2 linked regions of the Homo sapiens genome follow. The protein of the gene in region 1 purifies or fractionates together with the protein of each later gene. This does not show direct contact. Each region holds a gene or a part of one and is shown on either strand. Other genes may lie near its edges.

What was found. Proteins that work in one complex are often made in the same cells at the same time.
Region 2: the proteins of ADPRH (region 1) and XRN1 purify together in Homo sapiens (affinity purification with mass spectrometry; 2 studies listed by BioGRID and IntAct, with this or other methods). This does not show direct contact.

What each region holds. Positions count from the first base shown.
Region 1 is NC_000003.12:119,581,985-119,589,566, forward strand, and holds part of ADPRH (ADP-ribosylarginine hydrolase), read left to right. Parts: intron 1-149; 5' UTR 150-185; coding exon 186-483; intron 484-4,300; coding exon 4,301-4,661; intron 4,662-5,479; coding exon 5,480-5,894; 3' UTR 5,895-7,582.
Region 2 is NC_000003.12:142,325,837-142,333,418, reverse strand, and holds part of XRN1 (5'-3' exoribonuclease 1), read left to right. Parts: intron 1-329; coding exon 330-452; intron 453-884; coding exon 885-1,044; intron 1,045-3,781; coding exon of another isoform or gene 3,782-3,803; coding exon 3,804-3,985; intron 3,986-7,582. UniProt on the Homo sapiens protein: Major 5'-3' exoribonuclease involved in mRNA decay. Required for the 5'-3'-processing of the G4 tetraplex-containing DNA and RNA substrates. The kinetic of hydrolysis is faster for G4 RNA tetraplex than for G4 DNA tetraplex and monomeric RNA tetraplex.

The DNA of each region.
Region 1 (7,582 bases):
TCATAGAGCAGTGATGAGGATTACATGAGATGCCACTGATACAATGTCTGCAAGTAGTGAGTGCTCAATAAAACATAGCTAGAGTCGTTGTTTTTTCTGATTCTTCTTGCTCCTCATCCTATTTCCTTTGTCTTAATTTCCCCACAAAGACACCCTCTCCAGAGCCCAGCAATTGTGAGGGACTGATGGAGAAGTATGTGGCTGCTATGGTGCTGAGTGCAGCTGGAGATGCCCTGGGGTACTACAATGGGAAGTGGGAGTTCCTCCAGGATGGGGAGAAGATACACCGGCAGTTGGCCCAGCTGGGCGGCTTGGATGCCCTAGACGTGGGAAGGTGGAGAGTTAGTGACGACACAGTGATGCACTTGGCCACAGCAGAAGCTCTTGTGGAAGCTGGGAAAGCCCCTAAGTTGACTCAACTGTATTACCTCCTTGCTAAGCATTACCAAGACTGCATGGAAGACATGGATGGGCGGGCACCAGGTGAGCACAGCCGGTGGGAGGTGCAAGGAGGGCAAAGAATAAAACAGCCTTGAGGAAATCATTAAGAATGTTGATGGAGATTTAAATAACAGAGACAATAGTGTTTGTAAATGTGATAAAAATAGAAATAACGGCCATGGTGGTGGCTCATACCTGTAATTCCAGCTCTTTGGGAGGCCAAGGTGAGAGAATCACTTGAACCCAGGAGTTCAAGACAAGCCTGAGCAATATACGGAGACCCTGTCTCTAGAATGGGGTAGCCAATCCCTCTTCTAGAGACAGGTACTGATCCGTGGCTTGTTAGGAACTGGAGCACACAGCAGGAAGTGAGTGATGGGCGAAGGAGCATCATCACCTGAGCTCTGCCTCCATCAGATCAGTGGCGCATTAGATTCTCATAGGAGCCTGAACCCTGTTGGGAACTGCACATGCGAGGGATCTAGATTGTGGGCTTCTTATGAGAATCTAATGTCTGATGATCTGTGGTGGAACAGTTTTGTCCCAAAACCTCCCCCAACCAACCCCGTCCATGGAAAAATTATCTTCTGTAAAACCGGTCGCTGGTGCCAAAAAGGCTGGGGACTACAACTCCAGAAAAAAATTTTTAAAACATTAGCCAGGTGTCATGGCACATACCTGTAGTCCCAGCTACTTGGGGGGCTGAGGTAGGATGATTGCTTGAGCCCGGGAGGTTGAGGCTACAGTGAGCTAGGATCGTGCCACTGCATTCCAGCCTGAGTGACAAAGCAATACCCTGACTCTAAAAAATAAAGAAATAAATAGAAAGAACCTAAATCTCTCATAATTAATTAAGCTGACACATTTGCAACCATTTAAAATTATTCAGGGTGACTCTACTCAATAACAATGTATCGTATATTTCAAAATAACCAATAGAGTAAATTTCAAATGTCTCACCACAAAAAAAAGTGAGGCAATAGATATGCTAATTAGCCTGATCATCCCACATTGTTTACATATATCAAATCATCACATTATACTAAATAAATGTATATAATTGATTTGTCAATTTAAATATTAATAAAAATTTAAAATTTGCAAATAATATTTACTAATATTGAAAAGTATTATTATACACTAATAGGTTATAAAATAGTATGTATGTTATGAACCTACTGTCCTTTAAAAAATAGATCTGTGGGGCCAAGTGCTGTGGCTTACACCTGTAATCCCAACACTGTGAAAGGCCAAGGTGAGAGGATTGCTTGAGTCCAGGAGTTTGAGACCAGCCTGGGCAACATAGCAAAAGCCTGTCTTTAAAAAAAATTTTTTTGAGTGGCCAGTTAAAAAAAAATTTTTTTTTTTTTGAGATGGAGTCTCACTCTGTTGCCCAGGCTGGAGTGCAGTGGCACGATCTCGGCTCACTGCAACCTCTGCCTCCCAGGTTCAAGCGATTCTCCTGCCCCAGCCTCCCAAGTAGCTGGGATTACAGGCACGCACCACCACGTCTGGCTAATTTTTGTATTTTTGGTAGAGATGGGGTTTCACCATGTTGGCCAGGCTGGTTTCGAACTCCTGACCTCAGTTGATCCACCTGCCTCAGCCTCCCAAAGTGCTGGGATTACAGGCATGAGCCACCATGCCTGGCCAAAAAAAAACTTTTTTTTAAAAAATAGATATGTATTTCTGTGTTGAGAAAGATCTTGAAGAACATGTACAAAGATGTTACTAATTATATTTGGGTGATGGGAGTATTTATAGTTTTTTATTTTTACTTACTTGTATTTCTAAGTTTTCTGTGATGAATAAGTAAAAAGAAAAATGTATATTTTTTATTTTTAAAGAAAAATGCGGCTAGGCATGGTGGCTCATGCCTGTAATCCAAGCACTTTGGGAGGCCAAGGCGGGCAGATCATCTGAGGTCAGGAGTTTGAGACTAGCCTGACCAACATGGTGAAATCCCATCTCTACTAAAAATTAAAAAATTAGCTGGGTGTGATGGTGCACACCTGTAATCCCAGCTACCCAGGAGGCTGAGGCACGAGAATCACTTGAACCCCAGAGGCGGAGGTTGCAGTGAGCCAAGATCGCGCCATTGGACTCCAGCCTGGGCGACAGAGTGAGACCCCATCTCAAGAAAAAAAAATGCAAAGGCTTTTGTAGAGACTTCTGGCCACAGGTTCGCTCACAAGTGGTTCTTGCCCACTTCGGCAACTTGTTAGAGCCACTTGGGCCACCAGGTGATTTTCTCTGGCCCATCTGACCTACCTCTCCTATTTGAGGCTGCTAGGGCTGCCATAACAAAATGGCATAGACTGAGTGGCTGAAACAATGGAAATTTGTCTCTCACAGCTCTGGAAACTGGAAATCCAAGTCAAGATATTGACAGGCCTGGTTTCTTCTGAGGCCTCTCTCCTTGGCTTGCAGATGGCTGCCTCCTCGCTGTGTCCTCACATGGTCTTTCCTCTGTGTGCATGTATCCCTGGTGTTTCTGTGTGTTTGCATTCCTCTTCATGTAAGGACACCAGGCAGATTAGATTAGGGCCTACCCTAAAGGCCACATTTTAGCTTAACCACCTCTTTAAAGGCCCTATCTCCAAATCGAGGTACTTAGAGCTACAGCATTTGAATTGGGGGGACTCAATTCAGCACATAACACCTCCTGATGAAAGCTTCCCATCACCATACCAAGGGGCCCTTGTCACCCCAAGGATTGGCTTTAGATGCCAATCTCTGTTCATCCTTTCTCGGCATCTGATAGCTCATCAGTTTAGCAAGTGGAAACTTTTTTTTGTCCACCTGTGCCATCCATGAACATTTTTGTGAAAACACTGACCAGTAAAGGAACAGCAGTGCCACACTCCATCGTATGTTGCTGCCATCGCTTGGTTCGCATGCGTATTCACAGGTCCCCAGTAGGACAGGTCGGGGGACAAGCCTGCTTACGTCACTGTCACGAGGGGATAGCCAAGGCCCAGAGGTTCAGTGACTCACCAAAGACACATTGTTTCCCTGAATCCACTGCTCCTCATCTGAGCCCAGGGCTTCACTGTAGAATTTTTGGCCGCTTTCTTTCTTTTTGATGTTCAGGAACTCCAATTGTGAGGTTTTTGTTTTTTGTTTTTTGGTTTTTTGTTTTGAGACGGAGTCTCGCTCTGTCACCCAGGCCAGGGTGCAGTGGTGCAATCTCGACTCACTGCAACCTCTGCCTCCCGGGTTCAAACGATTCTCCTGCCTCAGCCTTCCAAATAGCTGGGACTACAGGCATGTGTCACCACGCCCGGCTAGTTTTTTGTATTTTTAGTAGAGACGGAGTTTCACCGTGTTAGCCAGGATGGTCCCGATCTCCTGACCTCGTGATCTGCCTGCCTCCACCTCCCAAAGTGCTGGGATTACAGGCATGAGCCACTGCTCCCGGCCTAATTGTAAGGTTCTTATTGGACTCCATAAGGAATTGGGCTTTGGAGTCTGATGGATTTTACCCAGCCACTAACTAGCTGATTATGTGATTTTGAGGAAGTTTCTTAAGCTCTGAGCTTAAAAGGCTTATTTACTTAAAAAAGAGAACAATATACTTACTTCTTAATTTTTTTGTGATGTCTCAGTAATGACTGGTAAAGATTCCAAGGATCCCTATATGAGTCTGCTGCCTTTATTAGCGTTATCTTGCCAAGGGTTATACATAAAGAAAGGCACATTGTTGGGTGGGGTTTGGAGTTTTGGGGCATGCATCATCATATTTTTTGGCTCTCCCTTTCCATCAAAAATACTTGGAGACAGAGTTTAGTTATTTATTCCTGCTGGGGCCTTTGCTTTGGTTATGCTAACCCCCATCCCTTATCCGACTCTTCCCCAGGTGGTGCCTCGGTGCACAACGCCATGCAGCTGAAGCCGGGCAAGCCCAATGGCTGGAGGATTCCCTTCAACAGCCATGAGGGCGGCTGTGGGGCTGCCATGCGGGCCATGTGCATCGGTCTCAGGTTCCCACACCATAGCCAACTGGACACACTGATCCAAGTGAGCATCGAGAGTGGTCGGATGACCCACCACCACCCAACAGGCTACCTGGGGGCCCTTGCGTCTGCTCTTTTTACAGCCTATGCTGTGAATAGCAGACCACCCTTGCAGTGGGGAAAAGGACTGATGGAGCTGCTACCAGAAGCTAAAAAGTACATTGTCCAATCAGGCTACTTTGTAGAGGAAAATCTTCAACACTGGTGAGTCTGTAAGCGCACGCCCTGCTCAAACACGGTTGAATCTGTGCGTGTACATCCACCTGCACATATATGTCTTGTATTCAGAGATCACAGCAACCCTCATGGTTTTCACCCCCAGCCCCCTTTCTACCCATCTGCTAAGGATTTCAAGTTCCCTTCCAGTAATGATTCTACAAAGTAGCCAAGTGGATACCTCAATGAATAGGGCAGCTGTGGTGTTTCCCTCTTACACGGAATCCTGTCATTTTTGTGGCTATCCTATTCTGCCATGAATTTTCATGCCTATTTCCTACTTTCCTGGAATTTGCTTTTTCAGTGTTGTCTTGGTATACAAATAATATTTTGAAATCCTTGGTTAAAATTCCAGAGATACGTTTTTCCACTAGCTAACTAATAAGTGGTAAGGCCACATCTTCCCCTTCTCGTGAGTTCACTTCACATTGTCTTTCTTAGAATAAAAAGAGGCTTTCTGCTGAAGTCACCCACAGTTGTGATGTCTTGAAGTTCCCCTTTAAAAGGTCATTACTCTCGACCCTCCCAGGGAAAACAAACCTGTATTTCTTACCCTTTAACTTGATATGTATCTCTTTATTTAGCAACAGGATCAATGCCTTATTTATGTAGATCCTTATGAAAAATGTATTGAATGAATGGTACTTATATAGAAATAATTTTGATGTTTAAATAGTTTATGATATTACTGCAAGAAGCCGAAGTTATGTTGGATTTTTCTCTGTTCACACATCCATCTGGTGCTTTTTGTTATGACTTTTCACTTTATTTTTTTCAATTGACTCTAGATTTTTTCCTTTCTACAGGTCCTACTTCCAAACCAAATGGGAAAATTACCTAAAACTTAGAGGGATTTTGGATGGAGAATCAGCCCCTACCTTCCCTGAGTCTTTCGGTGTGAAGGAGAGGGATCAGTTCTACACCTCCCTGAGCTACTCTGGCTGGGGTGGCAGCAGTGGGCACGATGCCCCCATGATTGCCTACGATGCTGTTCTTGCTGCAGGAGACTCCTGGAAGGAGCTTGCCCACCGAGCCTTTTTCCATGGTGGAGACAGTGATTCTACAGCTGCCATTGCTGGCTGCTGGTGGGGAGTTATGTATGGTTTTAAAGGAGTGAGTCCCTCCAACTATGAGAAACTAGAATACAGAAACCGGCTGGAAGAGACAGCTAGGGCTTTATATTCTCTCGGGTCAAAAGAAGACACTGTAATTTCCCTTTAGGGAGACGTGATGTTCACTTCTGATGGATTCTTCTTTTGTGTATTTCCTTTTCTGCTATTTCTTTTCAGTTTTTCCAAAGTCAAGAGTCTTAACCTTGTACTCAGGGAATTTTGAGATAACAAGTCCCTTGGGCACCTTAAGCTCAGTTTTTTCAGGCTCATCCTGTTCTTCCAGAATCTATCCCTTTTCTTACACTGAAGAGTCCTTTAGCTCAATTGATAGGGTCAGCGTCTCGCAAGCAAAAAATCTCATGACCTCATATTTGAGTCTTCATTTTCATCATCTACTTGTTCTAAAAGTTTTTTCTGTTTGTCTCAAGTTGGGTTCCCACAAAGTGGACTTTGAGACAAAGATCTGAATGCAAGCAGTTTATATGGGAGATGATTCCAGGAAATACCGATATGAGAATGGGGAAATGAAACCAGGAAGGGAAGAGAGCTAGTATGGGGTATGTTAATGAGCAGGTTTCCACTGTGGGCGGTTGGCACTCTGCCATCTGAGTCCTCTGCCTAAAGCATTCCTCAGAACTGTCCCATTTGAAGGGCAAGCAAACCTGGGGTATTTATCCACTGACTTCCATCTGACACTGGTTGAGGACCACTGCCAGGGATGCTAACTCCCTGGTAATTCTTGGCTTACCCTTTGTACAAACCAAACCTTAGTGTCTTCAGGTAAAGACTCAGAGATACTTGCAGGGGCAAGCTGTAAAGGGCATGGGAACAGTGAGGGACATATGTGGGGTCCTAACAATATCTGCTAGGCTGGTCTACCTCCTAAATATACTCTGAATCTATCACCTCTATTGCCTTCTTGCACTGAGGATTTTTCAGCTGGATTTCTGCAATCCAAGCTACTCAAGTCTGGGAGATGCTGCTCTGAGCTGCTCTCAGTACTCTCCTCATCATGGCAGTTAACACATTACCAATTTTGTTATTGTCTGTTTGCTTGTTTGCATTATTTCTAAACAGAACCTAGCACAGTGCTTGGGCAGCCAATAGGCATTAATCAGTATCTATTGAGTGTTATGAACTAGCCTCCTAGCTCGTGCTTCCCTCATTACCCTCCAGAGTTATGTTTACGAATAACAAATTGACCATGCTAAACTAATCATGTTCCAATGAATACATCACCTTTCTTCATTTCTTGATGCTCTTCCCAATCCTTGTCTACCTGATAATAAATTCTTACTTGTCCTTCAAGACCCAACTCAGATAGATAGAGCTTCCTGAGTGAAACCTGCTTTGATTGTTCAGGCACTTGGCCACCTTCTCCTCACTCCTCCCACAGCCTTCTGTCTTGGCCTTGTCATCACATCAATCCTGTTGTGTGGTGCTGTGTGTCTTCTGGGTCAGTCCTAGGCACATGCTGCCCAGCACATGTCCACCTGGGAAATGAGATGCCATCGTCACATTCATTTGGTCACCCTCAGTCCAGCCAGTGGGCTTGCTCTCATTTGGCCTGTTCTCAGGGGTGGGAAGGAAGAGCGTCCCTTCCTTCTCCTTTTGAGAAAACCACAGAACTATGACTCTCATGATTTTTCCTTTGTGAAATCCCTGGTTTTCAGCTGGAAGCGGTGGGTAAATGAGGTCTGATGATAGCAGTCCTGCCACCTTCTAGTTCATCCCATAGGAATGTTTTTCCAAGTCCTTCCAGTCTTTTTAGAACGTGGTGGAGGAGGGTTGTGTGTG
Region 2 (7,582 bases), about 23 Mb from region 1:
ACTATTACATATTAACTATAAATATATTTGCACAAAAAGTTTATTCTTACTTTTTTAATAGACTTTAGAAGGGCCTGCCAAATATAATATTAAGCTATTGAAGAGAAATGAAAGTCCAGAAGTCTCAGAAACCCAAAAGGTTGTGACTGGTTATCCAAATGCTATTGATAAGGTAAAAAACTATTTATTCCAATTCTCTTCCCAAACTTTAACACCTGGGAAGATGATTGAGTGAAAATCGAATGACCATTTTTGTACATAAAACTCAGCTTTTTGTGTGTTCTTGTATTATACGTTCATCTTCATGCCCAAAATATTTATTCTTTTAGCCTAACTCTGGAATTGAGAACTTTTTAGCATCTTTGAATATCTCCAAAGAAAATGAAGTACAGTCATCTCATCATGGGGAGCCTCCAAGTGAAGAGCATTTGTCACCACAGTCATTTGCCATGGTTCGTATTTTGTAGGAACTTTCTTACTGTGGTAATTTCTCGACTGTTGACCATGCAGACATATCCCATGCAAGTGTTCAAACACTTCCATCATGGAGGCTGGTATGTTACATCATTATTGTCATCTTGTGAGGAAACCAGGCTGCCCTGGGCAATTTAGCCATACTTTTTCTCTTTAGACCACAGTTCCCCTGCTTTTCAAACATTGCTACTAGGTAACTGGGATGAAAGTTAAGCAGGAGGATAAGTATCGTTTCTGTATCAGAAATGTGGGTGTTGGGTTTTTTTTTTTCAGTTTCTATCTGAATGTAGTTAATGTCTTAATTGTTAACAATGGAATTCTTTCCAAGAAAGATCAATAAGTTCTACAGATGTAATGTTGACTTTGTTCTCTTCACCCTCACCATCTCCATGTGAATCATTTTCAAAAAGAAGGGAACACGGATGCTTAAAGAAATTCTAAAAATTGATGGCTCTAACACTGTGGACCATAAGAATGAAATCAAACAGATTGCTAATGAAATCCCTGTTTCCTCTAACAGAAGAGATGAATATGGATTACCCTCTCAGCCTAAACAAAATAAGAAATTAGGTAAGTAAACTAAATACTATTACCAATAATATCATTTTAAAAATTCAATTCATTTGGTTCTTTTTAATCATGTACTTTTAAAGATAAAACTGCTTTTATTTTAATGTATTTATTTATTTTAGAGATGGTGTCTTGCTGTGTTGGCCAGGCTGGTCTCAAACTTCTGACCTCAAGCAATCCTCTCACTTCAGCCTCCCAAAGTGCTGGGATTACAGGTATATGCCACCACACCTGGCCCAAAACTACTTTTATTCTTAAAACTATAATTTTTATATTTGTTTCAGTTATATAATAATATAACTGGCCAGGTGTGGCTCATGCCTGTAATCTCAGAACTTTGGGAAGCTGAGGCAGGCGGATCTCTTAAGCTCAGGAGTTCAAGACCAGCCTGGGCAACATGGCGGAAACTCTGTCTCTCTAAAAAATACAAAAGTTAGCTAGGTGTGGTGGCGTGTGCCTGTAGTCCCAGCTACTGGGGAGGCTGACGTGGTAGGATTGCTTGAGCCTTGGAGGCAGAGGTTGCAGTGAGCCAAGATCACGCCACTGCACTCTAACCTGGGCAACAGAGATAGACCCTGTCTCAAAAAACAAAAAGAACAATAATAATACAACCATGTAACCAATAGATCTACAGTCACTAAATGTCTTCTTGTGATTACTTAATTGTAGTGTTATAGATAATCATTCTGTAGACATCCAAACCTTTAAAAGTTTGCACATTCTAGCTTTTGTCCTCAGTAATTTAAAAATTATCATGTAACTTAAATACATTATTTAACTTTTCTGAAATCTTGTTTCTTATTTATAAAATAAGAATAATACATTACAGATTACTTGTGGTAATTATATAACATGTATAAATATAAAACAGCACTATGTCCAACACATTGTAGGTGCTAATAATTGATATTAATATTATGTTAAAATAACCTAACTGTTGTAAAAATAGAAAAATCTACAAAATCAATTAAAAATCATTAATAGAGTTAGATATAGGAAAGTGAGTCATACTCTTAAGTCTGTAAAGCCTATAGCATAACATCTGGCACATAACTGGATTTCAGTAAATATCCGCCATATTTGTTCCTACCCTGAATGTCCTCTATACTTTAGCATTTTATCTGTATAATGATCTACTAAAGGCAGCCAGGAAGAATGACTGATACAAAAGTGGATGTGGGCAGAAGTTTCTCAGAGAAGTCAAAAACATTTTGGAATAAGCAGATCTAAGCGTATTAAAGATCAAAACCTGGAATTGGCTGGGCACGTTGGCCCACATCTGTAATGCCAGCACTTTGGGAGGCCAAGGCGGGTGGATCACCTGAGGTCAGGAGTTTGAGACCAGCCTGGCCAACATGGTGAAACCCCCTTTCTACTAAAAATACAAAAAATTAGCCGGGTGTGGTGGCAGGCGCCACCAAGTAGCTGTAATCCCAGCTACTTCAGAGGCTGAATCAGGAGAATCGCTTGAACCCGGGAGGTGGAGGTTGCAGTGAGCCAAGATCACGCCATCACACTCGAGCCTGGGCAACAAGAGCGAAACTCTGTCAAAACAAAAACAAAACCTGGAATAAAAGCAGAACCTAACCCCATTTATATTCCAGTGATAATTAATTAAAAATTCCAAAAAATATTAGGAACCTGATTATTTATTATAGTGACAGACATGGTCCTGAAATAGAACCAAATTAATTTTAAGACAAAATTAGATAAAGATGGTCCCATTGTCAAAAACAAGTAAGTTTTACTTTATTTCAGTATAGGAAAAAAAAAAAAAAAAACTCATAGGCTTTAGAGTCTTAGGGTCACTAGCTCAGAATCCAGCCCCTGTTATAGAACTAACTGGCTCTGTGACTTTGAGCAAGCCACTTAACTGCTTTTTTAATCTATATTAGTAAGAAGTTTGGATTAATTCTTCAATGAGGTATGCTTTTGTTCTATTAGTGAGTTTGTTAATCATAAAGAATGTGAACACTCAGAATTTTAAAATCATCTTCCATATAAAAACACTTAGAAGACAATTTCAAAAAAAACTTTTAAGAAATATTATTTCAGAGCCACAAAAATATTCATCCATGTGTCTCAGAATGTAAGGTGGAATTGCAAGAATTGAGGTGGAAGCCAAAACTTCAAAACTTAAGGATGAATTATATTTCAGCTCAAGAAAGCCATTTGTTTATTCATTCTTTTATTTTTCTCTTCTTACTTCTGCAAAACAAGAAAGCCATTTGTTTGTTCAAATTTTACCTGTAGCAGTACCATGTAGTCATTAGCTGCTCAAGGTTTTAATTTTTGGCAGTTAGGTACTTATATTTTAAAATCTTTATCTTAATAATTTATCATTAATCAATTATACTCATCCAAAAACCTTTACTGAAGTCACAATAATTTTAGGAAGTACTAAATAGTTGTTTATATGTGCTTCATGGAAGACTCATCTTTTTAATGCAGTTGGTGGCTCTATAGCGTCTAACTGAATTTTTCAAGGTTTTCGACCAAATTTATAAGGTGCGTGGCCAGAGGACCACTGAAGGTAAGCTGACAGTCACTTGGATGGCAGGTTGTACTGCTAGAGTCCAGGATTTGGAACTAGAGCCACCTGAAATCCTGATTCTGTTATTTAATAATGGGTGGCCTTGAGCAATTCACTTCACTTTTTAGCAGTTTCCTGCTTGCTCTTCTATAAAACCCTACAATAAGTGCATAATTTGAGATAGTATTTTATTAATAAAGATAGACTCTTTTCTCTTTTTTGGTAGCATCTTATATGAACAAGCCTCACAGTGCTAATGAGTACCATAATGTTCAGTCTATGGACAATATGTGTTGGCCTGCCCCCAGCCAGATCCCTCCTGTATCCACACCAGTAACTGAACTTTCTCGAATTTGTTCCCTTGTTGGAATGCCACAACCTGATTTCTCCTTTCTTAGGATGCCACAGGTATAGTATACTACTGTTCTATTTATATAAATTATTTAACATTAAGCTTAAATAAATTGGTTGAAAATGTTTAGCTAGAAAAAATAAAATGGGGCCTATTTTTCTTAACTTTATGAGCAGCATAGATTTATGCTTCTTACCCTAGCTCTAATATTTATACATAACCAAAGCCCTAAGAGAAGCTGACAGGGAGGAACTGGGCAGCAGGTATCCTGGCAAGATTCCTCAAACTAATAGAGCCAGGGATCTTGGCCTACAGTAGCAATTTTCAAACTTTTTGGTCTCAGAAACTTCACACTTTTTTTGGAGGACCCCAAAGAGATTTTGTTTACTTATATCCATATTTACTGTGTTTGAAATTAAAACAAAAAAAATTGGCCAGTTGTAATGGGTCATGCCTGTAACTCAGCACTTTGGGAGGCCAAGGCGGGAGGACAGCTTGAGGCTGGGAGTTTAAGACCAGCCTGGGCAACATAGCAAGACCTCATCTCTACAAAAGAATATAAAAATAAAATTAGCCATGTGTGTTGTGAGCCTGTAGTCCCAGCTGCTCACAAGGCTGAGGCAGGAGGACGGAAGCCCAGGAGGTCAGGACTTCAGTGAGCCACGATTATGCCATTGCACTCCAGCCTGGGCAACAGAGCAAGACCTTGTCTCTGAAACATATATATATATATATATATATATATATATATATATATATATATATATATATATATATATATATATAATATTACAAGTAAACCTATATGTTTATTAATCCATTGTTTATTAAAAATAACTTTCACCTAATAGACATCTGTAGAACATTTCATCCAACAGCTGTAGAATATACATTCTTTTCCTCAACAAATGGAACATTCTCAAGGATAAACCAAATGTTAAGCCACAAAACAAGTCTCACAAAATTCAAAAGATTAAAATTCAATCAAGTATATTTTCTGACCATAATGAAATAAAACCAGAAATCAATAACAAGAGGAACTTTGGAAACTATACAAATAAATGGAAATTAAACATTATGTTTCTGAATGGCCCTTGGGTCAATGAAGAAATTAAGAGAAAATTTTAAATTTTCCTGAAGCAAATGAAAATGGAAACACAACATACCAAAACCTGTAGGATACGGCAAAAGTAGTACTAGGAGGGAAGATTATAGCAATAAATCCCTGCATCCAAAAAGTACAGACACTTCAAATAAACAACCTAACAGTGTGTCTTGAAGAATTAGTTCCAGCAGTCACACTACTGGGTATCTATCTAAAGGAAAAGAAATTGTATAAAAAAGATACCTGATTTGTATGTATATTGCAGCACTAGTCACAATAGCCAAGATGTAGAATCAACCTAAGGGTCCATCAACAGATGATTGGATAAAGAAAATGTGGTGTATATATACACAATGGAATATTGTTCAGACATTTTAAAAAAGAATGAAACCATGTCTTTTGCAGCAACATGGATGGAACTGAGGCCATTATCTTAAGCAAACAACTCAGAACAGATACCACATGTTCTCATTTATAAGTGGGAGCTAAATAATGTGTACATAGGGATATAGAGTGTGAAATAATAGAGACTTGGAAGGGTGGGGGATGGGCAGGGAGTAGATGGTGAGAAATTACTTAATGGCTGCAATGTATGCAGTGTACATAATTCAGGTGATGAATATAAGAAAAGCCCAGACTTTACCACTCTGCAATAAATCCATGTAACAAAACTGCACTCGCACCCCTTACGTTTATACAAATTTTTAAAATAAATAATAACTAGAAAAGCAAGAGGAAACCAAACCCAAAATTATTAGAAGAAAAGAAATGATAAAGATTGGGGCAGAAATTAATGAATTGATACTAAAAATAGTACAAAAGATGGATGAAAGAAAAAGTTGTTTTTTTTTTTTAAAAGATAAGCAAAATCAACAAACCTTTAGCCGGACTGTAAAAGAGAGAATATCCATATGAATAAAATCAGAGATGAAAAAGGAGTCATTACATCTGATAACACAGAAATTCAAAATATTTTAGAGACTATTATGAGCAACTATATGCAGTAAATTGGAAAACTTAGAAGAAATGGATGAATTCCGAGACACATAAAAACATACCAAGATTGAACCATGAAGAAATCCAAAACTTGAATAGAACAACATTAACAAGATGGAAGCGGTAGTAAAAAGCCTCTTATCAAAGTAGACCAGGACCTGGTGTTTTCGCTACTGAATTCTGCCAAACGCTGAAAGAAGAGCTAATAAGAGTTCTACTCAGACTGTTCCAAAAACTTGAGGAGGAGAAAATACTTCCAAACTTGCCAGTATTACCCTGATACCAAAACCAAAGAAAGACACTACAAAAAATGAGAACTACAGGCCGATATATCTGATGAAGTAGATATAAAAATCTTCAACACAATACTAGTGAATTGAATTCAAAGGCACATTAAAAAGATAATTCATCATGATCAAGTGGGATTCATCCCAGGTATGCAAGGATGTTTAAATATATGCAGTCAATAACTGTGACACATCAACAAAATGAAGAACAAAAACCATATGATCATTTCAATACTAACTGAAAAAGTGTTTGATAAAATTCAGCATCTCTTTGTGATAACAGCTCTCAACAAACTGGGTATAGAAGGAACATACCTCAACATAATAAACAACAACAAACCCACAGCTAGTATCATACTGAATGGGGGAAAAATGAAATACTTTCCTTTAAATTCTGGAAACAAGACAAGGATGCCCACTTTCACCACTGTTAATATAGTACTGGAAATCCTTGCCAGAGCAATTAGACAACAGAAATAAATAAAAGGCATCCAAAAGGGAAAGGAAGGAGTCAAACTACTCTTGTTAGTAGACAATATAATCTTATATTTAGAAAAAAACTATTAGAATTGATAAATTCAGTGAAGTTGTAGGATACAAAATCAACATACAATCAGTCACATTTCTATATACTGACAGCAAACAATCTGAAAAAGAAACCAAGAAATTAATCCCCTGCAGAATAGCTACAAATAAATAAAATACCTAGAAATTAATCAAGTTAACCAAAGCAGTGAAAGATCTCTACAATGAAAACTTATTATAAAACAATGATGCAAGAAATTGAAGAAGACACAAAGAAATGGAAAGATTGTCCATGTTCATGTATTGGAAGAATCAATATTGTTAAAATGTCTATACCACCCCCAAGCAATCTGCAGATACAGTGCAACTCCTCTCAAAATACCGATGACATTCTTGACAGAAATAGAAAAAAAAAAAAAATCCTAAAATTTATCTTGAACCGCACACGATCCTGAATAGCTACGGCAATCCAGAGCAAAGTGAACAAAGCTGGAGGCATTATACTGCAAAGTTACATAACCAAAACAACATGGTACTGGCTTAAAAACAGACAGAGACCAATGGAACAGAATAGAGAATCCAGAAATAAATCCACACAGTTACAGTCAACTTATTTTTTATAAAGATGACAAGAACATATGTTAGGGAAAGAACAGCCCCTTCAGTAAATGATCCTGGGACAACTAGATATCCATATTTAAGGGAATGAAACTAAGTGCTTATCTCTCACCATTTTCAAA